Linked DNA regions of Homo sapiens: all the other regions are linked to region 2. The links come from fine-mapping of genetic effects on gene expression. A gene starts in region 2. Each other region holds a variant in brackets. All regions are shown on one strand. Distances are from middle to middle.

What was found.
Region 1: its variant is fine-mapped to the expression of HEBP1 in whole blood (TOPMed, PIP above 0.99).
Region 3: its variant is fine-mapped to the expression of HEBP1 in whole blood (TOPMed, PIP above 0.99).

The regions. Positions count from the first base shown.
Region 1 is chr12:13,028,841-13,036,819 of GRCh38, forward strand. No RefSeq gene overlaps it. Among named protein-coding and RNA genes, the nearest start is that of FAM234B, 12 kb to the right of the region's middle. The variant G/A (reference allele first, on the strand shown) is at 3,112.
Region 2 is chr12:12,996,719-13,004,697 of GRCh38, forward strand. HEBP1 (heme binding protein 1) reads right to left here and starts at 3,547. Exons shown (of 4, transcript NM_015987.5): 1 at 3,319-3,547. The coding sequence starts at 3,396. The region is part of intron 2 of GPRC5D-AS1 (GPRC5D and HEBP1 antisense RNA 1); the gene reads left to right. It also overlaps the pseudogene HTR7P1. RefSeq lists silencers at 3,412-3,561, 3,612-3,731, 4,492-4,641 and an enhancer at 5,066-5,611.
Region 3 is chr12:12,959,531-12,967,509 of GRCh38, forward strand. All of the region lies in intron 1 of GPRC5D-AS1 (GPRC5D and HEBP1 antisense RNA 1), which reads left to right. Among named protein-coding and RNA genes, the nearest start is that of GPRC5D, 11 kb to the left of the region's middle. The variant C/T (reference allele first, on the strand shown) is at 3,012.

The DNA.
Region 1 (7,979 bases), 32 kb after region 2:
TAAGAACCCTGCATCAATATTTCAGGCATTTTCAGGGTTGATGTATGGAGCAGGGATTTGGCCTTGCTCCCTCTGGCTTCAGAAGACAGCATCAGTTCTCCTGGGAGGCAGTCACAGGTGTAGTCTCCAAGCCCTACAACAGTGGCTATCTGCCACGTGCCCTGAGCTCTGGGGAGCTGAGAATGTCCCAGCAGAGATAACATGACTGAGGATTAAAGAAGCAGTTGCTACTCGTTGGGGATTAGATTTGCAGACCTCTGAGATCCGTTCCAACATTGAGATCAAATGTTATTAAAAGAAACAACCACACACACACAAATCTCCTTCAGCAGGGCTGAAATGGGACCTGGGTAGGGGTGAGGTGGGGTGGCTATTTGGGGTGGGAAGATGGTAGGGATGGGGGAAGACCTGGGGAAGTGTTTCTAGCAGAGCCTCATCAATAGAAACAGTTTGGTTTCAAATGCATAGCTAAATTCACCAGCATGTGGTTGGGGCAGGTTCCCCAAGGAGAGAAACAGGGAATACCAGGGGCATGCTTCAGTCAATTGGCATTGCAGCCACTGGAGGGGACTTAGATTTCAAGGAAGACACCCCATAGCGTGGCATTCTCTGAGGCATAATGCTCAGAATTAGGGCCCCTTTTGTGTGAGGGCTGTACTGCTTGCTCTTCACTCTGAAATTGTCATTCTGGATTTACTGAGAAGGCATGAAATTAAAGTTGGTAGGTGAACAATACCTCTGGCAAATACATTGTATTTAGGAGTAAAGAAGATTTTTGTTTCTTATTCCATCTTAAACTAAATGTTTACCAAATTTTCTCCTTCATTTCTTCACTTAAATTAAAACTGAAGAACATGTAGTTTTTCAAGTACCAGAAACTGGGAGAGATGATAGATCACCAATGAGATGAATATTTTAAAACCTGAGTAATAATGTAATGGAAGACAGATTGAAAGTTAAATTGTTATTCTACTTGGAAAGAATTATGTACTAGGAAACTAAAGGGTAATACAATTCTTCAGTGTCTAATATTTTAGCCCCCGTTTCAAGGTGAAAGAGAAAAGATGTGTACAGATTTTCTCAATAAGAAAACTCAATTGTAAGTTTTTACGGCTGAGAAAAAAAATTCGTAGTCTTAAAGAAAAAGTTTGGGTCACATGAAAGTTCTTTATGAGAAACCTATTTGTCTTACAACCTCTATTAGTGAAGGAGGGAGTAGCTTTAGGTAAATAAAATCTCTGGAATAAGACAACAGAGTTTCATGATTTTCAGGCCAAGACGTAAAAAGAAATACAGAAATAAATATTTTTTTTCATTGAAATAAGTAACTTTATGCACAATCTCCTGAATAAAAGAATAAAATCTGAGATTTTTGAGGCAGAGGGTGATGGAGGGTAGGATGAAAATAAAGTATTTGTGATGGTAATAAGAAAATAGCTTCACGTGAATCTCTCTAAGAATCCTACTTAAAAATCTTTAAGGTATTGACAAGGGAAAACAAAGACCCAAAAAAAACCAAACAAGTCTTTAACTCCAGGGTAAAAGAAAGAATGAAAATGAAATGTCTAATTTCATGGAAAGGTAACTCCAGGCAATATCATCTCTCTAAGAAATTCTCCTGGGTTTCATTTTTAGGCTCTTCCAAAATTAGGACAAGAGCCCTTTCTTACCTAGGCTGTACCTTGGTTCTTTTGATCTTGAGATAGAAATTTCAGACACGAAGGGACAGAGGCCATTAGAGAATTTCTTATCACCTTTATCCTCATCATACAGTACCAGGTATGACCCTCGTGGCTCCTGTCCTCTGCCTGAAGAGGACTTTTTGAAGTTTCCGGTGGTCTTTGGCCCACATGGGGTGTGTCTTTGTTCATCAGGACATGGATGAAAGACAGGTTGCCAACCCCTTGCAATTAAGTGTCTGCAGGCACGAGCTCGTGACTATTTCAAGAAGGATTGCTTTTCACTTCAAATATATTACTTTGTTCAAAGCAGATCCTGTGGGCTTACAGAGATATCACATCTTATCCTCTACTTCATTTGGTTCACCGAAGGACAAGTGTATGCCTGTCCTCTTAGAAACAGGAAAAAATACAAAGCACAATTTCTCAGCAAAGAGGGACTCCTCATGGTGAAGTTGTTAAACAAAAAAAAAAAGGCGACGTTTTCCTCTTTGTGTCAGATGTGCAGCCTGGCTTTTGGGAAGAGGTTTATAAATCTTGCAGTGCCTTGTTTAAGAACAATAATTAGTAATGGTCTGTTAATCCCATCTGCTTCCCAGAAGGAGAAAGAGTCACTACAGGGATGGATTAGGGCCTCTCTCCAATCCTACGTAGGGACATCTGCAAAGACTCTCATAATAGATGTTAAAAGCTTGACTAGAGAAGAAGAAAGTTGCCTTAGAGAGAATCTCTAAGGTAGAGCAAGAAGTAGATAAGATAATACTACTGGGAAAATCTACTATATAAGAGAACAAAACTTCACATCTACTAAGCAGAGATAAATAAAAGGAATACTTATGATTACTGAAGGTTCAGGGGACTCAGTAAATTAATACCCATCTTCTCTGCATAGCTCTGATTGATCTGGGAATAGACTGAAGAGATGGACAGATGGAGATAAAATATCAGCTTCACTATTGAAAGAAAGCTACGCTGAATGACATGGCTTAGATCTGTTGTAAAAGGGGCTTGCAAATTCTTTCTTTGAATTAGAGAGGTGTACCCAGGCTAGCACAGCAGGACAACTGCAGGCCCTTAAACCACAGCAGAGTAGAACAAAGTGTGTGCTCTCTGTAGGCAGGCACGTTACTCTTTAGCCTTTTCTTCCTTGATCTCTCTGTGGCATTTAAAATAATTGACTATGCTTTTCCCAAAAACACTTTTTTTGCTTGGTTTCAGGGACAACAAACTCTCCTGGTTATCCTCTGACCGTACTGGCTATGCCTGCTGCTTTCTCTGGCTGGTTCCTCCTCTTCTCCCTGAACTGTGAATGGTGAAATGCTGCAGCGTTCACGCTCCCCTCCCCTCCTGCATCACACATGCTTTCTGTGATCTTATTCCATTTCCCAACTTTAAATATGGGTTATGTGCATTAGCTACCAAATTTACTATC[G/A]AATCTACCAAATGACTACCAAATTTATATCTCCACCTAGGACTTCTCCCTGAACTCCCAAGACTCATACATGCAACTGCCTGGTCAACATTTCCACTTGCATGTCCAGTTGGATGTTGAATTTGACACATCCAAAACCAACCCCTGATGTCTGCTTCCCATCCCACTCCTCTCTCAGTTTTCCCCTTCTCCAATCTTCTGGTTGCTAGGTCAAAAGACTCACTACGGTCCCTGACACCTTTTTCTCTCATGCCATACATTCAGTTCTTCAACAAATCCTGCCGGCTCTACCTTCAAATTAAGTTAAGAATCCTACCACTTCCCCCCACCCTCAAAGAAACTACCCTAGTCTAAACCACCATCAGTTCTGGCTTGGGTCATTGTAATAGTCAAAAGTGATTCATCACTGCCAGTACCCCCACAGTCTGTTCTCAGAACAGCAAAGTGATCTCAAGGAACACTTTTAAAATCTAAGTCAAATAAACACTTCTGTGCCTCAAGGCTTTCAAAGTCTCTCTATTTAATCTAGACTAAAAGCCAAAGTCTTTATTTTCCCTACCAAGTCTACAGAATCTGTTCCTACTCTGGCCATATCTGACCTCATCTAATCTCTAATCTCTCCCTAGAACCATCCTTTCCTGGCTGGGCGCGGTGGCTCCCACCTGTAATCCCAGCACTTCGGGAGGCCGAGGCGGGTGGATCACTTGAGGCCAGAAGTTTGAGACCAGCCAGGCCAACGTGGTGAAACCTCATCTCTACTAAAAATACAAAAATACAAAAATTAGCCAGGTGTGGTGGCAGGTGTCTGTAATCCCAGTGACTCGGGAGACTGAGGCAGGAGAATCGCTTGAGCCTGGTAGTTGGAGGTTGCAGTGAGCGGAGACAGCACCACCACACTCCAGCATGGGAAAACAGAGCAAGACTCTGTCTCAGAAAAAAAAAGAAAAAAAAAAAAAGAAGAAAAACTATCCTTTCTGGCAGCCTTTTTGCTGGTCTTCGAACAGGACAGGTATGCTTCTGCCTCCAAGTTCTTTTTATTCATGATGCCTCTATTAGATCTTTCTTCCAATATCATCCTCTTACTGAAGCCTTCCCTAACCATCCTATTTAAAATTGGACATCTGCCCACCACTCCCTGCGACTTCCACATTGCATCTCCCCTTCTCTATTCTATTTTTCTGTAATACTTATCACCATCTGACACAGCATATATTTTACTTAACTATTTCTCTTCTCTGCTTGACCTCATAGTTCCCACAAACATACATGATGTGGACAAGGACTTTTGTCTGTTTTGTCTGGTCTGACATCCCCAGCATCTAGAATAGGGCCTTTCAGTAATGACTGCTCAAATATTTGTTGAATAAATAATTTTATTTTTTATATTATATTATTTTATTTTAGAGATGGAGTGTCACTCACTCTGTTGCCCAGGCTGGAGTGCAGTGGTGCTTACTACAACCTCTGCCTCCCGGCTTTGACCGATTCTTCTGCTTCAGCCTCCTGAATAGCTGGGATTACAGGCGCGCCACCATGCCTGACTAATTTTTGTATTTTTAGTCGGGATGGGGTTTCACCACGTTGGCCAGGCTGGTCTCAAACTCCTGGCTCAAGTGATCTGCCTGCCTTGGCCTCCCAAAGTGCTGGGATTACAGGCATAAGCCACTGCATTCAGCCTGGATAAGTAATTTTAAAAATGAATCAGTGAATGAGTCTCAAGGGGAAGCAGCTATGCTAAGCATGACCTGCTTCCTTCCTTTGAACACTAGTCAGGAGACTCACAAGATACTCTAGTGAAAACCGTTCCACATGGGAATCTGAGGGTTGGGGAATAAGTATTCCCCTAAAAAATGATGAGGAAAAATTTATCACAAAATATCTTTTCAAATCAGACCAGTGTTGTTCTTTAAGATTGCAGAAGTGGAAAAAAGATTAGCTTCATGCAAAATCTCTCAGGAGAAGAATAAAACTAGGGTTTTAAAAATTGAGTCAGAGAAAGAAAGAAAATGATTTGTGTTAGGAAATACCTTTCAGAAAAATCTAAACAATCCTCCTTTGGTCATTAAGGCTGGGGTAAGAGACCAAAAATTAATCATTTGATTAAAGAATAAAATTCCCAGATCTTGAAGACTAAAATATAAAAGGAGAATATTTATGGTAAGAAAGAAGAAATAGAAGTGAGTGAGATTTTATGAACTGGACAAGTAAAAGGTAGCTTTTCATACAGAGGTCCTTGAAAAGTTCCAGAGCCTTTAGTTCCTTAAAGATAAACTCTTGGAAGGAATAAAACATAAAAGAAGAAATAAAACTATTTGCGGTGGCAAAGGTAACAGTAGATTTATTTGTCTCACAACTCTCTCTAGTTTGTGGTTACATGCACATTTTTAGCTCTGCCATTGTGATTATTCCTCTCAGAACCTCAACTGGGCCAGGCATGGTGGCTCACACTTATAGTCCCAGCTACTTGGGAGGCTGAGGCAGGAGAATTGCTTGAGCCAAGCAGGTTGAGGCTGCAGTGAGCTGTGATCGTGCCACTGCACTCCAGCCTGGGCAACAAAATTAAACCCCATCTCAAAAACAAAAAACAACAACAACCAAAACAAAACAAATACAAAAACCCTCAAATGTCATCCTAGAGAGAAATTAAGCCTCACATCAAACCCCAGGTTGACAAACCATGCTTGCTTCCAAACCCAGAAAGCTGCCAGAAGTTAAAGATGATCAGGTTTTATTAGATTATCTTGGAGGCAAGATTATAATGAAAAATACTTAAGAAGTATTTTTTGGCTGGGCGCGATGGCTCACGCCTGTAATCTCAGGATTTTCGGAGGCCTAGGCAGACGGATCACAAGGTCAGGCGATCGAGACCATGCTGGCTAACACAGTGAAATCCTGTTTCTACTAAAAATACAAAAAATTAGCTGGGTGTGGTGGCGGGCGCCTGTAGTCCCAGCTACTTGGGAGGCTGAGGCAGGAGAATGGCGTGAACCTGGAAGGTGGAGCTTGCAGTGAGCCGAGATTGCGCCACTGCACTCCAGCCTGGGTGACACAGCAAGACTTTGTCTCAAAAAAAAAAAAAAAAAAAAAAGAAGTAATTCTTAGGTCATTCATAAAATTACATTAAACAATGTGCTTCAAATAAAGAAAGCTGAAAGTGTTAACTCTGTAGGAGTGAGACTATGGATAGTATTTAGCATGATTGTGTGTTAGGGATAATTTATTTTTATATTTATTTATTTATTATTTTTTGAGACGGATTCTTGCTCTGTCACCCAGGCTGGAGCGCAGTGGCGTGATCTTGGCTCACTGCAACTTTCACCTCCTGTACTCAAGCAATTCTCCTATCTCAGCCTCCCAAGTAGCTGGGATTACAGATGCCACCATCATGCCCAGTTAATTTTTGTATTTTTAGTAGAGACAGGGTTTCACCACGTTGGCCAGGCTGGTATCCAACTCCTGACCTCAAATGATCCACCTGCCTCGGCCTCCCAAAGTTCTGGGATTATAGGCGTGAGCCATCGTGCCTGGCCTATTTATTTATTATTTATTTTGAGACAGGTTCTTGCTCTATTGCCCAGGCTGGAGTGCAGTGGTGCAATCATGGCTCACTGCAGCCTTGACCTCCTGGGCTCAATCAATTCTCCTGCCTCAGCCTGGGGCTACAGGTGTGTACTACCACGCCCAGCTAATTTTTAAATTTTTTGTAGAGTGGGAAATCTCCCTATGTTTTCCAGGCTGGTCTTGAACTTCTGGCCTCAAGTGATCCTCCCATCTCAGCCTCTCAGAGTGCTGGGATTATAGGTGTCAGCCACCACAGCTGACTGATAATTTACTTTTATATAGTATATCTCAACTGATGGCTGTTTACCTTCCCTTCATGATAGCTCAATTTAGAGGGAGTTTATTTCCATATATTATGTATTGGGCTGTCACCTAACGCAATGGTTCTAGATAGCCCTGGCATCTCTCAGGGGAGAAGAGAGCCAGGGAACCTCAGTGTCTATATGATTTGGTTCAGTCCCCAGGTGAAAGCTGATGGAGGCTGCAGGAAGACAAGCTGTTGGGGTGGCAGGAATGTGTCAGGGTGGGTATGGGTGACTGTCTCATTTGCAGTCAGGCTCGCAGGAGTAGAAACAGGAGTTCTGTTAGTCTTAATAGTTTGTATAATAAGAGAAAAATAAACAGTACCCATATTTTCTTTCTTGCCAGAACAGGAAAGCAGGTGAAAAGTGAGAATTTGTGCACACGTTGTGTCTGGGAGACAAAGCATGAGTAACTGAATCCACCACCAGGACCTTTTGCTTGTAACTATCTGGTCTTCCTCTCTCCATTCTTGTTCTCCTCCAGTTTATTCCCTGCATAGCAGCCAGTTGGATCACATCAACTTTGCTAATTAAAGTCCTTCAGTGTCAAGGCACCTGCATGATCAGGTTCCTGTCTGCCTCTTGCTTCTCACATTGAAACTATTCTCAGGCACACTGGTTTCCTCCATAGGACGAAGCTTTTGTCTTTCTTTCTTTTTTTTTTTTGAGATGGAGTCTCTGTCACCCAGGCTGGAGTGCAGTGGTGGAGTCTTGGCTCACTGCAACCTCCGCCTCCCAGGTTCAAGCAATTCTTGCGCCTTAGCCTCCCGAGTAGCTGGGATTACAGGCATGTGCCACCACGCCTGGCTAATTTTTTGTATTTTTAGTAGGCACAGGGTTTCACTATGTTGGCCAGGCTGGTCTCGAACTCCTGATCTCAAGTGATCCACCCGCTTCGGCCTTCCAAAGTGCTGGGATTACAGGCGTGAGCCACCGTGCCCGGCTGAATCAAGCTTTTTTCTGACTCGACCTTTACACGTCCTGTTCTTCAGCCTTTACGTGAAC
Region 2 (7,979 bases):
CTTAGAGTTGAGGAATTCAAGGGCTCACGGGATGTTAAGTAATTTACCCAAACTTTACTGTAAAACTACAGTAAAGCTAACCATTACCATCTCCAACCAAGTACTAACATTGAACAGTTTTATAATTGGTTATCTCATTTGAACTTCAAAACAATCTATTAATATATGAACTATTATTTTCTTCCACAATTAGCTTCAGAGGGGCTAAGTTGGCCTGTGACCACACAGCTAGAAAGAATGAAGCTGAGATGAGCACTGATATAATGCTATTACTATATTTGTAGGGTATGTATACTACTTTACAAAATGTTTTCATGGTTTTAAAGAATTTAATACTTATAGTAACTCTGGAAATAGATGGAAAAGATATTTTTATACTCATTTTATAGCTGTAGAAACAGGTTCATTTGGGTTAAATGATTTGCTTTAGCCTGGTACCAATATCCCATATGGCCCCATATTCCCATCAAACACTGAGAGAAGATGCTTATTAGGGAGTTCTCCTTATCCCAGAGGCCCCAAATTAACGGCAAGTGACACTGTATCAATAAGAGTCAAACAGGAAACAGAAACTACTAGAGTATTTAGAGCAGAAGCACTTCGATGCAAGGGATTGGTTGCACAGATAACAGAGGGGCTGAGATGCCAGCAGGGGACAGAGAGGCAACCTAGAGGTTAGTAAGCACCCTAGGAGACACAGAGGGAGAATTACCTGTTACCTAAGTTCAGATACCTAGGTTACTGGGTAGAAGCTAGAATCATGGTGGCCTGTGTAGCGGAAGCCAAAGCCACAGAGAAGCTCCTAGTAGTATGGATCTGATGGGGTGGAGAAGGAGGAGAAATACTCTGGTTTCTCCCTTTTTATCTCCCAGTAGAGACTCCCACTGAGCAAACGTAGCTGGGCGCCGGCTGACATCTGGCCTGGGAAACAGGCCGAATGGGTCAGCTTCCACTCCACAGGAAGACAGCAGAGCAGGGAATGGGTGAGGAAGGAATCTGAGGGCACAGGCCACGAACCAGCCCAGACCCCTCTCCGCCTGTGTGGGCCATCATCATTAATCCAAAAAGACAAAGTGAGCCCCATTCCATGACAAAAGCAAGAACACATGGATTCTTAAAGTGTTAGAATCACAGGAACCTTCATCAGGGCTGTTAGGAGAAAGGCTGTGGTTCTGAGTAGGGCAACTACTTGATGGGGAGGCCAGTGATGCTGCAGACCTTATCAGGTGCCTTTTTCATTGCCCAGGGAGGCGGATAGACAGCTCTCTGTGTTGGCTTGGGTGGGTCCTTTGGATGCTCACAGCAGGACTGATATTAATAACTGGCATCCTTATTGCATTTGTGTCCAGCCTATGCACAACTATGTCAGTTTCCCTACTCAAAATCACAGCCTCACTCCTAATACTCCCTATTCCTCACTCCCCTGCTTGCTTTTCTTCACAGCACTGATCACTATCTGATCCATGATACATTTTATTTGTTCATTAGCCAATAAAACATAAGTTCCATGAGGGCAGAGAATTTTGCTGGTTTTAATCTTTTATCCCATTGCCTAGAAGAGTGCCTGGCACATAGCACTCAAAAAACAGTTTTTGTCGAATTATTTTTAAATTGGGTGATTTCGCTAAGAATCTGGATGTATGGTTTTCCTTAAGAATTTGGCAACACTGTTTCATATATCACTGCATAGCAACAAGTGGCTGGAACTGCCGTTTAGAGATGGGGACCTGAGTTCACTCTCTGATTTGCCTCAGTCCCCACTATGCCTTATAGCCTAAAACAGCCAGCTTCATCCATTTCCATTACCTGCCTGGTTGCTGCAGGTATTCAAATGTGGGACCTCTGATCAGGGCTAAACTGTTCATTCTACATAGAGCTGGGGAAACGGAGATAAGAACAGGTGAAAGGTCTTTGGTTGTCAAAGAGTTCAGATTAGAGTCTAATTGAGGGCTTTCGTGATATGAAGATCATTGTACTAGGTATCAGAACTTGGCCCCCAGGCAATACAGTCCTTTCACAAATGAGGCATCGTATTGGGAGCTCTGTATACAGCTGCACTGTTTAAACTACCTGTCCACCAGGAGATTATAATCTAGCAGCACTCTCCTTGTTTTCAGGGGTGCAGTCCAGTTAGCCCATGTTAGCACTGATATAAATTTGGGGGAAGACAGCAATTATGCTCTTCTCACTCATTCTGTATTCTAGGTACCCAACTCCAGAGGATCTAACTGGCCAAAAGCAATGGTACAGCTCTGGGCCTTTGTGCATGCTCTTCTCTGTTGTGTGCACTCCTACACATCCCTGAGGCCCCAGCTCAGGACACTCCACTGAGGTCCCCATCATAGCCCCCTGGCAGAATTGACTGCCTCTGTGCTCCCTGCGTAGCGCATTTATATCTATTCTGCACAGATCTTGTTCTTTTACACAGTAGTCCCCCTTATCTATAGTAGATACCTTCCAAGCCCCCCAGTGGATACCTGAAACGGTGGACAAAACTGAACCCTGTATCTACTACGTTTTTTCCTATACATACATACCTATGATATAGTTTAACTTTATCAATTAGGCACAGTAAGAGATGAACAACAATAATAAAATAACAGCAATTATAACAATATGCCAGCATTGCTAAGCTTGCACTTTGGGGCCATTACTAAGTAAAATAAGGGTTACTTCAATACCGCCACGGTCGATCCGATCACCAAGCTAGCTACTAAGTGACTAAGGGCGGCTACTAGAGATAGGAGGCTGACCTTGGACAAAGGGGCATTCCGGTCCCAGGAATCAAGATTTCATCCTGCTACGCAGAATGGCCGGAAACTTAAAACTTAGGACTTCTGTATTTCTGGAATTTTCCATTTAATAGTTATGGACAAGAGCTGACCACAGGTAACTGAAATCGCGGATAAAGGGGGCTACTATCCGCAGTTCTCTAGTACTTGGGAGTTTCTTGCGACACTCATTTCTGCAACCGAGTGTCTCTCAACAAATCAAACTGTTCGGAATGTTTGGAATATTTTAAACGAAAGAATGCATTCAACAGGCAGTGCCCAACTCCCCAAGTTGGGATTCTCTCCTTGGATCAGTCTCTCCTGTTTACCCCCCTCCTCTCACCACCGGCTGCAGGGGGACCTCTCACTCCTTTCCTTCCCAGTCCAAATGCTGGGCGGTGGAGAGCCGCACTCGCGACAGACACCAGAACGCACCTTCGATAGCACATTCCTGCCCCACCTGCCCCTCAGCACCCGCTGCAGCCCCGACGAGGGTGGGGGTGGGAGGCAGCAATCCTTCAGGTCCTCGGCAGCCCTGCGGGCCTACCTTGTCCCCTTTGCTTAGGACCTGCCAAGGCCACGTCTCTACGCTTCCGAACAGCGAGTTCTTGATCATGCCCAACATGTTGTAGCCGAGACGCTCCCGACGCACGGGAGGACGTGAGGTGGCGGGGGCGACGGAGCACCACGGGCAGCGACCACCGGCGGCAGGGCGGCAGGGCGGCAGGGCGGCAGGGCGGCAGGGTGGCAGGGCGGCAAGGCGGCGGGACGGCGAGGCGGCGAGGCGAGAGGCGGGGCTAGAGGCAGGGGCCAGAGGGCGTGGCTAGAGGGCGGGGCGGCAATTCAGCCCGGCGGTGAGGCAAGGGGGCGGGACGGCGAGGTGAAGGGGCGGAGAGAGAGGGCGGGGCGGCGAGGCGAGGGGGCGGAGAGAGGGCGGGTCAGTGATGCGAAGGGCGGGCAGCAGGGCAGCAGTGCAGCAGTGCAGCAGTGCGGTGAGGCGAGGGTGCGAGGCGGCTAAGCAAGGGATGGGCCCGCCGTGGCGAGCCGCTGGGCCGTGTTCCGCCTCCTTTCGGGCTTTCCGCGGGTGTCTGGGGAGGGAACCCGGCCGCGGGCCTCAGGCCGTCCCCCTCCGCAGACCCCTTCTCTTATTCTGAGTCTAACCTATCCGCTGGGGCCCTGGAAAGCGATTCTCGCCTGGAGTGGCTTTAGGCAGCGGTGGTGGGGAACGTCCTCTCTCAGGTGCCTGGGCTCCAACCTCCGAGCCCCGGGTTGCTCACGCTTCTCCGGTCCTCTACCCGAAGGCTCGATCCCGCTGGTACAGCGGCGGCCAGGCTCCCTGTCTTGGTAGCTGTCCCTCTACCCCCGCCCCATGACCTCTTCTAGACCATTGAAAGAGCATCCAAACCACTTTCCTGCTGCCACTCTTTCCTACCATCCCTCTAAATCACAGTTTCCAGGTGACTTTTCTAAGCATGGCTTTTCTCGTTCACTCCTGTTCAAAAATCTTCTCACCAATTTTGTCACCATTTACTCAGCTGAGTGCCTGCTTTCTGTCAAGTATTTTACCAATAAATCTCTACTCCACACCACCGACAAGAAATATTTTGGAGCCATTTAAAAAGGAGGAAACGGAAGCTTCTGCCGCTGCCTGATCCTCCATTGCTCCGAGCCGCGCGGGTGCAGCGGGCTGTGGAGCCGCGGGCCGAGCCCCGCCGGAGCGCCCGAGAGCCCGCGCGTCCCGGGCGTCCGTCGGGGTCCGAGGTCCCTCCCTCAGGGAGTCCCCGCTCGGCAGCGCTCTCGCGTTTCACGCAGCGGCCGGGGATCTGGGACAGGCGGGGCCCCGAGGCCGAGCCTGGCGCTGCCCAGCGGCCGGTGCAGGCCTCAAGCTGGGCCGGGCGGAGGGGAACCGGCGAGTTGAAGCCCCGGGGCCGAAAGCCGGAGCCTGTGGCGGCCGCGGGGGTGGGGAGGGGGGTGGGGCGGCTTCTTGGGCAGCGCCACACGGCGGCGCAGTGATGGATGTTAACAGCAGCGGCCACCCGGACCTCTACGGGCGCCTCTGCTCTTTCCTCCTGCCGGAGGTGGGGGGCAGGCTGCCCGACCTGAGCCCCGACGGTGGCGCCGAACCGGTCGCGGTCTCCGGGACGCCGCATCTGCTGAGCGGGGGCCCCCGAGGTGACGGCCAGCCCGGCGCCCACCTGGGACGCAACCCCGGGCAATGCCTCCGGCCGCGGGGAGCAAATCAAGAAAGGGCCGAGAAAGTTGTGATCGGCTCTGTCCTGACGCTCATCTCTCTGCGATCGCGGGCAACTGCCTGGTGGTATCTCCGTGTGCTTCGTCAAGAAGCTCCGCCAGCCCTCCAACTACCTGATCGTGTCCATGGCGCTGGCCAACCTCTCGGTGGCCATGGCGGTCATGCCCTTCATCAGTGTCACCGACCTCATCGGGGGCAAGTGGATCTTTGGACACTTTTTCTGTAACGTCTTCTCCATGAATGTCATGTGCTGCACGGCCTGGATCTTGACCTTGTACGTGATCAGCATCGACAGGTACCTTGGGATCATGAAGCCTCTCACGTACCCTATGAGGCAGAAGGGGAAATGCATGACGAAGATGATTCTTTCTGTCTGCCTTCTTTCCGCCTTTGTCACTTTACCTACCATTTTTGGTCGGGCTCAGAATGTAAACGATGATAAGGTGTGCTTGGTCAGTCAAGACTTTGGCTACACGATTTACTCCACCGCAGTGGCATCCTAATCCCCATGTGCGTCATGCTTTTCATGTACTAACAGATTTACAAGGCCGCCAGGAAAAGCGCGGCCTAACACAGGTTACCTGGCTTCCCTCGAGTGGAGCCAGACAGCAGTAGTCACCCTGAATGGCACAGTGAAGTTCCAGGAGGTGGAAGAGTGTGCAAACCTTTCGAGACTCCTCAAGCATGAAAGGAAAAAATATCTCCATCTTTAAGCGGAAACAGAAAGCAGCGACTACCTTGGGGATCATCGTCTGGGCCTCCACCATGTGCTGGCCGCCCTTTTTCCTCCTGACAGCCAGACCCTTCTGTCTATGGCACTGCCTGCAGCTGCATCCCACTGTGGGTGGAGAGGATATTTCCATGGCTGGGCTATGCAAACTCTCTCATTAACCCTTTTATTTATGCCTTCTTCAACTGGGACCTGAGGACCACCTATTGCAGCCGGCTCCAGTGCCAGTACCAGAATATCAACCAGACACTCTCAGCTGCAGGCATGCATGAAGCCCTGAAGCTTGCTGAGAGGCCAGAGAGACCTGAGTTTGTCCTACAAAACTCTGACTACTGTAGAAAAAAAAGTCATGATTCATGACTGAAAGAGGGATAATGGAGATGAAATAAACAAGGCAAAATAGAGGTGGAAACAGAAGAAAGTCATTTGCCAAGACTGCAGAATGGAATGCAGCTTCTGTCCTTTCTTAGGATGGCTAAAACGTGACAAACAGCATGACCTGATGTACAACATATCTTATGAGGGAGATGGTGACCTCTCCTTTTTTCTGTGGATCAGTGTTATTGTGTGTTCTCAGTTTAAGATAGCAGATCATCTCAGCAGTAAGCACACTGACAGAATTGAGTTCCAGAAAGGAAGCAGTTTCAGGTTCTTAGCACATGTCCAAATCCATGCAAGTGGGAGAAAGTTCCAATGCACACTTTCCATGCTTCCGAGTCTAGGTCTCGTGGTGAATATTCAGCAATCATTCATGAGAAAGAATGTATTTTGTTGTATGACAGAAGGGTTTACCAAGCAAACTGTGGTAAGCATAGTATCGAATATGTTGCATGTCCATTTTAGAAAACAGAGCCCAGTCATCAGCTAATACAAATGATTTCCCAGAGCAGTGTTTGTTTCAAGCTTCTGTCAAATAGTTTGGCTTTTCTGCAGGGTCCCTGTAACTTCCCCACAAATGTACTTCTTTGTTAATTCACTTATTGTTATGGTGTGGCTCAGGAACAGGTCTCAGGATGGAGAGCAGCATACAACCTGAACAAAGCTTTTTCTTGTGCTCTGAAGGGTCCTGAGACGTGAGGGGGATGCCTTCCATGAGGATTTTTATCTCAGTGAAGTGCGAGTGGTACCCACCTGTATTGTCATTAACATGATTATTGGCATGTTTTTGACTCTCATTTTTCACAAGGGTGCAGTGGGGCCATGGACCATCCCATGGGATGGTCCATAACTGTATGTTATATGGAAATAGTGTGGGAATAATGGGTTTTCCATGAAAGGTTGTGATGCTTCTGGAGATGGGGGCATAAACGTGTTCATTCTTGTTGAGCAGCATTGTGTTAAACCAAATTGTGTGAAGTGGAGGTCACCTGGACCACTCCTGGGAAATGCTCCAGAACACCAGTCTGTTCCTTCTAGAAATTTGTTCTCTGTATTTATTTTTATTTTTTATTTTGAGGCAGTGTCTCACCCATCCTGTCTCCCAGGCTGGAGTGCAGTGGTGCGATCTCGGCTCACTGCAACCTCTGCCTCCTGGGTTTAAGCAATTCTCCTGCCTCTGCCTCCCAAGTAGCTGAGATTACAGGCACCTGCCACCACACCTGGCTAATTTTCGTATTTTTAGTAGAGAAGGAGTTTCACCATGTTGGCCAGGCTGGTCTCAAACTCCTGATCTCAGTTGATCCACCTGCCTTGGACTCCCAAAGTGCTGAGATTACAGGTGTGAGCCACTGTGCCCAGCCTGTTCTCTGTATCTTAAATCAACTCTGTGCCAAAGCAGTTCTGTCCCCTGACTCCCACCCCTACCCACCAAAAAGTGGTAGACATGAAGGGCAGGTAAGGGAACAGAAAATGTCTCCTTGCAGCTATATATATTTTAAACGAACTGTGTAATAAGTATGAGCTAAGGAGACAGAAAGACAGTAGATGAGAAAAGAAGAGTACCTATACCTACAAGGGGCAAAATGAATGCAATCCTTCATTTGATAAGAGAGAACTGAAAGAGAATATTATTTTTCTACAATAAAGCAAGCTGTCCTCTCAGGATAAAGTGGAATTTCGACATGGATTATGGACTTCTTCCAACTCCCATTGACATTGCTTCTTACCACACATGGGGAAGGGCTGCCTTTCCTGAAAGGGGAAGAAGGCACTGTCCTTTCAGACAAAGTTTGTACAAATTCCTGAACTGCAGATTTGCTAATGTGACCGCGTATACTTATATTCATAA
Region 3 (7,979 bases), 37 kb before region 2:
CCTGGTTTATTCAACATAAGGCTTTGGCACCTAAAGAAATTTAACTGAACTTCATGGATTTATTGAAATCGAGATGCCAGTGGGCAAAACTTGTAGAAATATTTTGTTCAGATATTGGAGCTGACATATCCACTTACCACACGTAGTCAAAGTCCTGGTTACCATGAGGAAAAATACTCAAAAATAAGATTTAGATTTTGTTAAACTGAAAAACTATCTCATCTGGCAAATATTTTTGAACATGGTATTTGGATAGTAAAAGTGCACATTTAGCTGATTTGGGGGCATTATTTTCCTTTTTTTTTTTTTTTTTTTTTTTAAGACAAGGGTCTTGCTCTGTCACCTGGGCTGGAGTTCAGTGCTGCTATCAAAGCTCACTGCAGCCTGAAACTCCTGGGCTCAGGCATAACTGGAAATACAGGTGCACACCACCATGCTCAGCTAATATATTTTTTTTAATTAAAAAATTTTGGCTGGGTATGGTGGCTCATGCCTGTAATCCCAGCACTTTGGGAGGCCAAGGCTGATGGATCACAAGGTCAGGAGTTCAAGACCAGCCTGGCCAACATGGTGAAACTCCATTTCTACTAAAAATACAAAAATTTGCCAGGTGTGGTGGCAGGTGCCTGTAATCCCAGCTGCTTGGGAGCCAAGATCGCGCCACTGCACTCCAGCCTGGGACAGAGCGAGACTCCATCTCAAAAAAAAAATTTTAGACTGGGTGTGGTGGCTCATGCCTGTAATCCCAGCGCTTTGGAAGGCCAAGGTGGGTGGATCTCTTGAGGCCAGGAATTCGAGACCAGCCTGGCTAACATGGCAAAACCATCTCTACTAAAAATACAAAAATTAGCTGGGTGTGGTGGTGCACACCTGTAATCCCAGCTGCTCAGGAGGCTGAGCCACGAGAATTGCTTGAACCCAGGAGGAGTCAGAGGTTGCAGCGAGCCAAGATCATGCCATTACACTCCAGCCTGGGTGACAGAGCAAGACTCTGTCTTAAAAACAAAAACAATTAAAAAATTTTTCGTGAAGACAGAAATTCACTATGCCAGACTGGTCTTGAACACCTGGCATCAAGCAATCATTCCGCCTCGGCCTCCCAAATTGCTGGGATTACAGGTGCGAGCCACTGCACTCAGCTGTACGATACATTTTAAAATGTTAAACACATTTAAGGAATCTAAAAGGCAGCAATTTTAAAAGGTGGCTGTAAGTATCACACATTCCTCCCACCGAGAGGTGGGGTCTATCTAATTCCTCTCCACTTGAATCTAGGCTGGCTTTAGTGACTCTCTTGTAACCAATAAAATGTGGTGGGAGTGAGGATGCGTGAATTCCAAGGCTAGGTGAAAATTAGCCTTGCAGCTTCTGCTTTGATCTTTTGGAATACTTGGTCCAAAGGCTCTTCCTAGGACACAGCTGCTGTGTTCTGAAAACCCCAAGCTACATAAGGGACCACATATAGATTCTCTGGTCAATAGTACCAGCTGAGCCCAGCCTGCTAGCTATCCTTGACAAAGCACCAGGCACGTGAATGGAAAAGCCATCTGGGAAATTAATCCTCTTGTTCCAATTCTTCAATTGAAACTCCACTGAGCAGAATTTATGTTTATGTCTGTATGCAAGAATTATTCACATTGCTATCAGTTTTCCATATGTTGACTTATATTTCTACAGAGTTTTAAAATAGCCTAGTCAAAATCAAAGGCACATATCCCTATAGGATCAAATAATCCCAGAGGCACCAGCATTCCAATGAAGGGATGTTCATTCCTAAGTCTTAAAATTGTCCTTATAAAGGTCATAATTATGCTGCTGTATGTTCCCAACATTGCTGCAACACATAGAAGAGAACATTATAAAATCAGTTTGAGAAATAAAATTCGAGATATTGCTACATCTCATTTTTCTTTCAAAGTCACAATTATTACTTTTCAGAAGAAAATATGAAGCTTGAAAGAAAAGCATTTCAATAAAAGGTCTATTTTCTTTTCAAATCTCTGAATCAATAATTGAATTAAACCTGGTGAACAAAGAAGAGAATAACTGATTGTATTTAATTCTTTTTTAAAATTTATTATTATTATTTTTTTGAGACAGGGTCTCATTTTGTCATCCAGGCTGGAGTGCAGTGGCATGATCTCAGTTCACTGCAGCTTCGACTTCCTAGGCTCAAGTGATCCTCCCACCTTAGCCTCCCAAGTAGCTGGGACGACCATGCCTGTCTAATTTATGTATTTTTTGTAGAGATGAGGGTTGCCATGTTGCCCAAGCTGGTCTTGAACTCCTGGGCTTAAGTGATCACCTGCCTCGGCCTTCCAAAGTGCAGGGATCATAGGTGTGCCCCACCACGCCTGGCCTGTATTTAATTCTTATACTGAAGAATGATTTAAAGACATCATGTATATTATGTGGGTTAAGATTGAAGAAAAATTTCAGTGCTACTATCATAACTGGTGTATTACTATTGTTAACAATTGCTACAGCCTATTTGTGTGAATTTTTAGGATTTCAACTTTGACTGGATTCTAAAAAGAAAAAAACTAGGTTGAACAATGTATCAGATGTACTTATTGCCTCAGGTAGTCCACAGAATGAATTTATAAATGCTTTAGCATATCTGTCCACTACATAAAAATCATGTCTACATTTCTGTTTTGTGTTATTTTGGATTTTCATAATCTATATAAATATCAATAAAATAATATGTGATATTAGCTTTGCTCTGCTTTTATTTTACATTGGTAGCAATGGTAAATATTATTTTGTGAAACGTTTGAGGGGTATGTGTATGTATGTGTGTGTGTGTTTGTCCTGGGTTGAATGTAAAATTATTTCTGACTGGGGACTAGGGTAAAAGAAAATTTTGAAGCCAGGCGTGGTGGCTCATGCCTGTAATCCCAGCACTTTGGGAGGCTGAGGCAGGCAGATCACCTGAGGTCGGGAGTTCGGGACCAGCCTGACCAACATGGAGAAGAAACCCCCTCTCTACTAAAAATATAAAAAATTAG[C/T]TGGGTGTGGTAGCGCATGCCTATAATCCCAGCTACTCAGGAGGCTGAGGCAGGAGAATCGCTTGAACCTAGGAAGCGGAGGTTGTGGTGAGCTGAGATTGCGCCATTGCACTCCAGCCTGGGCAACAGGAGTGAAACTCCACCTCAAAAAAAAAAAAGAAAATTTTTTTTTGAAAATACTAGTCGCATCAAATGAGCACTGGCTTGGAGTCTGACTTAATTTTGGATGCCTGCTCTCTGATCTTGGGCAAGTTTCTTGATTTTCTGAACTTAAACAAATGTTTCCTCTTCCCTGTGGCATATTTACAGAAAGGAAAACCATCAATGATGGTTTTCAGGTAATTTGGTCTGAGCTGAGTTAAAGGGTTTTGAAAGCAAAGTGATGATAAAAACCATATCTGAGGTTAAGAAAGAGTGCAACTTACTTAAGGATTCTAACAAGTTTATTTTATTGTTTTTATTTATTTATTTATTTTGAGATGAAGCATTGCTCTGCTGCCCAGGCTGGAGTGCAGTGGCGTGATCTCGGCTCACTGCAACCTCTGCCTCCTGGGTTCAAGCAATTCTCTTGGCTCAGCCTCCTGAGTAACTGGGATTACAGCCACATGCCACCACACTTGGCTAATTTTTGTATATTTAGTAGAGATGGGGTTTTACCATGTTGGCCAGGCTGGTCTCGAACTCCTGACCTCAAGTGATCCACCCGCCTGGGCCTCCCAAATTGCTGGGATTACAGGCGTGAGTCACTGCACCCAGCCAGGATTCTAACAATTTCAAAGGATTTTTATATGTAATTGTCAACATGCAAATTATTATGTTAAATTCAAGTGTTAAGTCTACATATTAATGTAGCCCATTTATTTACTCTTAGACTCTCTCCCTAGAAATGTATCGTTAGTGTTCATTCATCTGCTTGTTCTTTCTTTTAATGACTTTTTTTGAGCATCTATTTTGTGCTGAGTGCTGTGCTTGTGCTTGAGATATTACAGTGAACAACACTCAGGGCCCCCTACCTGTGTTTAAGTTGCTTACCTACTGGGTGGGGTGGAAGGTAGGCAGGTAATGAAAACATCATTAGACATTCAGCGTATTCTGTGGGTTCATAGGCGCGAGGTTCAGAGAAGACCTTTCAGGAGAAATGTCTAAGTCAGGTCAAGTGAGGTGTAGGAGAGCTCTGGATGGAGGAAGCAGCCTGCACAATGTCCACAGCAAGGACGACCACAGTCTCTTACCCAAATAACAAGTGGGTGAGTGTAGTGGGAGGATGGATAGGTGAGAGAGGAGGAGGAGGCCCTGTAGCCAGATTATCCAGGGAGGGTGTGGCTGTTTTGAGGGGTAGTATGAATGTTATTCTGAGAGTAACTGTCTTTATTGTATTTAAGCTATAAAGTGCATTACAGTTAATATTCACTCATTCATTTACGCAACACATTTTTAGGGGCATCCATAGCTGCTCATTGTGCTTAATGCTGTGGATATAGTGGTAAACAAAGCATGCACAGTTCTTGGCCTCAACGAGCTTACAGTTTGGTGGGAGAGCAACCAACAGAAAAATAAAACGTGTGCATATATAATCACTAGTGTGAAAATGCTGTAAAAGATGTTGTGGTAGAGAATAATAGAGTGAGGGTCCCTCTGACAGGTTGGGTGAGGAGGGCCTCCCTGAGTAGGCACCATTTAAGCAGAGACCCAGAGGATACGAAAGATCCAGCTGTGCCCATGCAGAGTGGGAGGAAGAGCATTCCAGGTGGAGAGGGCAAGATAAGCAGGAGCCCTAAGATGCCAAAGAGCATGGTGTGTTTGAGAAATAGAAAGATCCACTGTATCTGCAGCAAGGAGGGGAGTAGCAAAGAATGAGCATGGAGTAGGAAGTGGGCATCAGATGATACAGAGAGCTTGAGTCCCAGGGAGAGGAGTCTGATGCAACAGGAAACCGTGAAAAGGTGTTAAGCAAGAAAGTGACAGCTTCTACTATAAAGATCAATCTGCTTCAGACTGTCTAATGCACGATGGAACACCAGGCATTGAGAACGGATTAGAAAAGACCAGGGTAGGAAGCAGGAGACCATCTCAAGAGTCCGGGTGAGGCATGATGGTGGTTATTAGTCCACCAGGGTTGGGTGGAGTGATGGAGAGAGACAATAAGATTCAAGAGACACTTTGGAGGTGGAATCTCTGTCTTGCTCGTGGTTGGGAGACAGAGAATGAAGAATGGCTCCTGGAACCCTAGATCTGCTCCACCAGCCCAGATTTTTTGCATCTCAGTTAGTAGCAAAGCCATTCTTCTAGCTGCTCAAACCAAGAATCTTGGTGTCATCTTGAGTCCTCTCTTTCTTTCATGTACAGTCCACCAGGAAATCCTTTTGGGTCTACCTTCAAAATACCACGGACTCTGACCACTTCTCACTACTTCAGTGACACCATCCAAGTCCAAGTGACCATCATCTCTTCTCTGCTTGACTGCAGGAAACTCCTAACCGGCCGTCTGCTTCTGACCTCATCCCCCAGCCCCAACCCCGACCCCTTTATAGTATATGATCAAAAGAGCAGCCAGAGGGATTCTTGCAACAGTGGGTTTGATTTTGTCACTGCTCTGCTTGAAATCCTACAATGGCCTTCTCTATTTTATACAGAAGAAAAGGCAAAGCCTCTGAAGTGACTTCTAGGTCTTTACCAGACCTGCCCACTCCTGTCACCTCTCTGTGCTTCCCCTGGGCTCTCTGTTTCAGCCCCTCCGACCTCTAAGTTCCTTGACCACACAGGCCCGCCCTGTCCGACAGCCTTTGCGCCACCTAGGATGGGCTTCCCTCAGGTTGCGTCTGGCCAACCCCTCACTATTTTCAAGTCTTTCTTCTCCAGGAGGGCTTCCCTGGCCACATCAGCAGGAACTGCACACCACCGCCTCCATACTGACCTCCCAAACACTGCCCATTCTCTTTGGTCTACTTTTAAATTTTGCCATTGCACTTACTACTTTGTAAGATATAATATAATATACTATTAAAATTTACATGTCTATTATTTGTTATCTATATACCCTACTCTACAAGGGTAAGGATCTTTGTTTTGTTCGCTTATAAACGGAATTGCCTAGGACAGTGCTTGGCATACAGGAGAGGTTCAATACATGTGAAATGAATGAACATGAGAGGGAATCATGAATGTGTTAAGCCAGAGGGTGGGCCAAACACCACAAACAACGAGGTGCAGGCCAAAGCCTGGTTAATAGGGAGGAATTATAGGCAGGGGTCAGCAAAATGCATGTGGCCTTCCAAGTTCTCACTCCTGGCCAGGCAGGGCTAGAGGCACTGTAGGTTTGTGCTCCAGGAGACATCCCCACTCTTTCCCACCCATCCCTCCACTTTACGTAAGAGAAGTTAGGGGGAGACAGGAAACAGCTGGCTGCCTGATCAAGTGCAAATGTGAGGTTCCCAAGGAGGGGGATGACACTGTTGCCCAGAGGAATATTCTGAGCTCAGATGATAGTCACATAGGGGAGAAAGATGATGCCTGAGGGCCGTCCAGCTAACAAGGAAGATGTCTGTCTATTCAGGGTGATTTTGTGTTTTGATCTGAGCACGTAGTTGAATGGTAGTGTTATTTAGAGATATGGGGAAGATGGAGGCATGAAAAGGAGGGTGGAAAAGTGTGCAGTGAGAGTTCAGTTTTGGACGTGCTGTTTGAGGTATCTGCAAATTCCTTGTATGAATATGTCAAGTAGGTCACTGGATATATGCATCTTGAACATCTGGATTTATTTCTGCATTTTTGTACTTTTCTTCATGTGCCAACTTCCTGTTGGCATCCTAAGCAGGTACCAGGCTGGTGCCACAGTCAGGACACCCCTCTCCATCCTCATTCCTCACCTTTCTTTCAGCAATTTCATGAATTGGGAAACACATTCATTCATTTATCCATCCCACAATCATACACCAAGCTTTCACTATATACTGGTACACAGCTGGGAACTGAGGCTACAAAAATAAATAATACTAAATATCAGCACTCAAGAAAACCACGTCTAATTGGGGCTGGTAAATTAAACAGTTGAGATTTATGCACTGTGAAGTATGTGTAACTTGAAGAAGAAATTAATATTTCCCTGACCCTATCTCTCTTCCTACTAGAAAAAGACCCCAAAAAGAGGGTGGATCTTATCCATTCCTTAGAAGCCCTTACAAATGGCACTTTTACAACTTTTGTTATGTTTATTTTAGGTCAGGAGCAATGGCTGACGCCTGTAATCCCAGCATTTTGGGGGCCTAATCGGGCAGATTGCTTGATGCCAGGAGTTCGAGACCAGCCTGGCCAACACGGTAAAGCCGCGTCTCTACTAAAAATACAAAAATTAGCCAGGTATGGTGGCACACGTGCCTGTAATCCCAGCTACTCGGGAGGCTGAGACACGAGAATCATGAGATTAACTTGAACCCAGGAGGCGGAGGTTGCAGTGAGCCTAGATTGCACCACTGCACTCTGGCCTGCGTGACAGAGTGAGACTCCGTCTGAAAAAAACCCAGAATTTTTGTTACGTTTTTGTATCAATGAGGAATTGTTCAGTGTATGTCTCAGCAGTGAACCCATTTCTTATTTCCGCATACCTGAGGGTGACATTTTGAAAGGAGATGAGATGAAGAAAAAAATTAAGAAGAGAGATGGGCTGTAAATAAATAGGAGTCAATAGGTCATGGATGGTCACAGAACCCATGTGCACGATTTTCATGGTCATGGATGACCTGCTGTTGGGAGTGGGCACAATGACATGATGCAGCCAGTAGAGGGTAGAGAACCCTGTCCTGGGGACACCAACATTTAGGGCTGGGCATGGAGAGATGCGCTTATGAAAGAAGTGGGGAGGTAGTCTGAGGCAGGTGCACCTGGAGAATGGCAGGTCACAGGTACCAGAGGAAGAATACCAGGGAGAAGGAGAGGTCTCAGTATTGAACAGTACAGAGAAGCTGTTCAGCC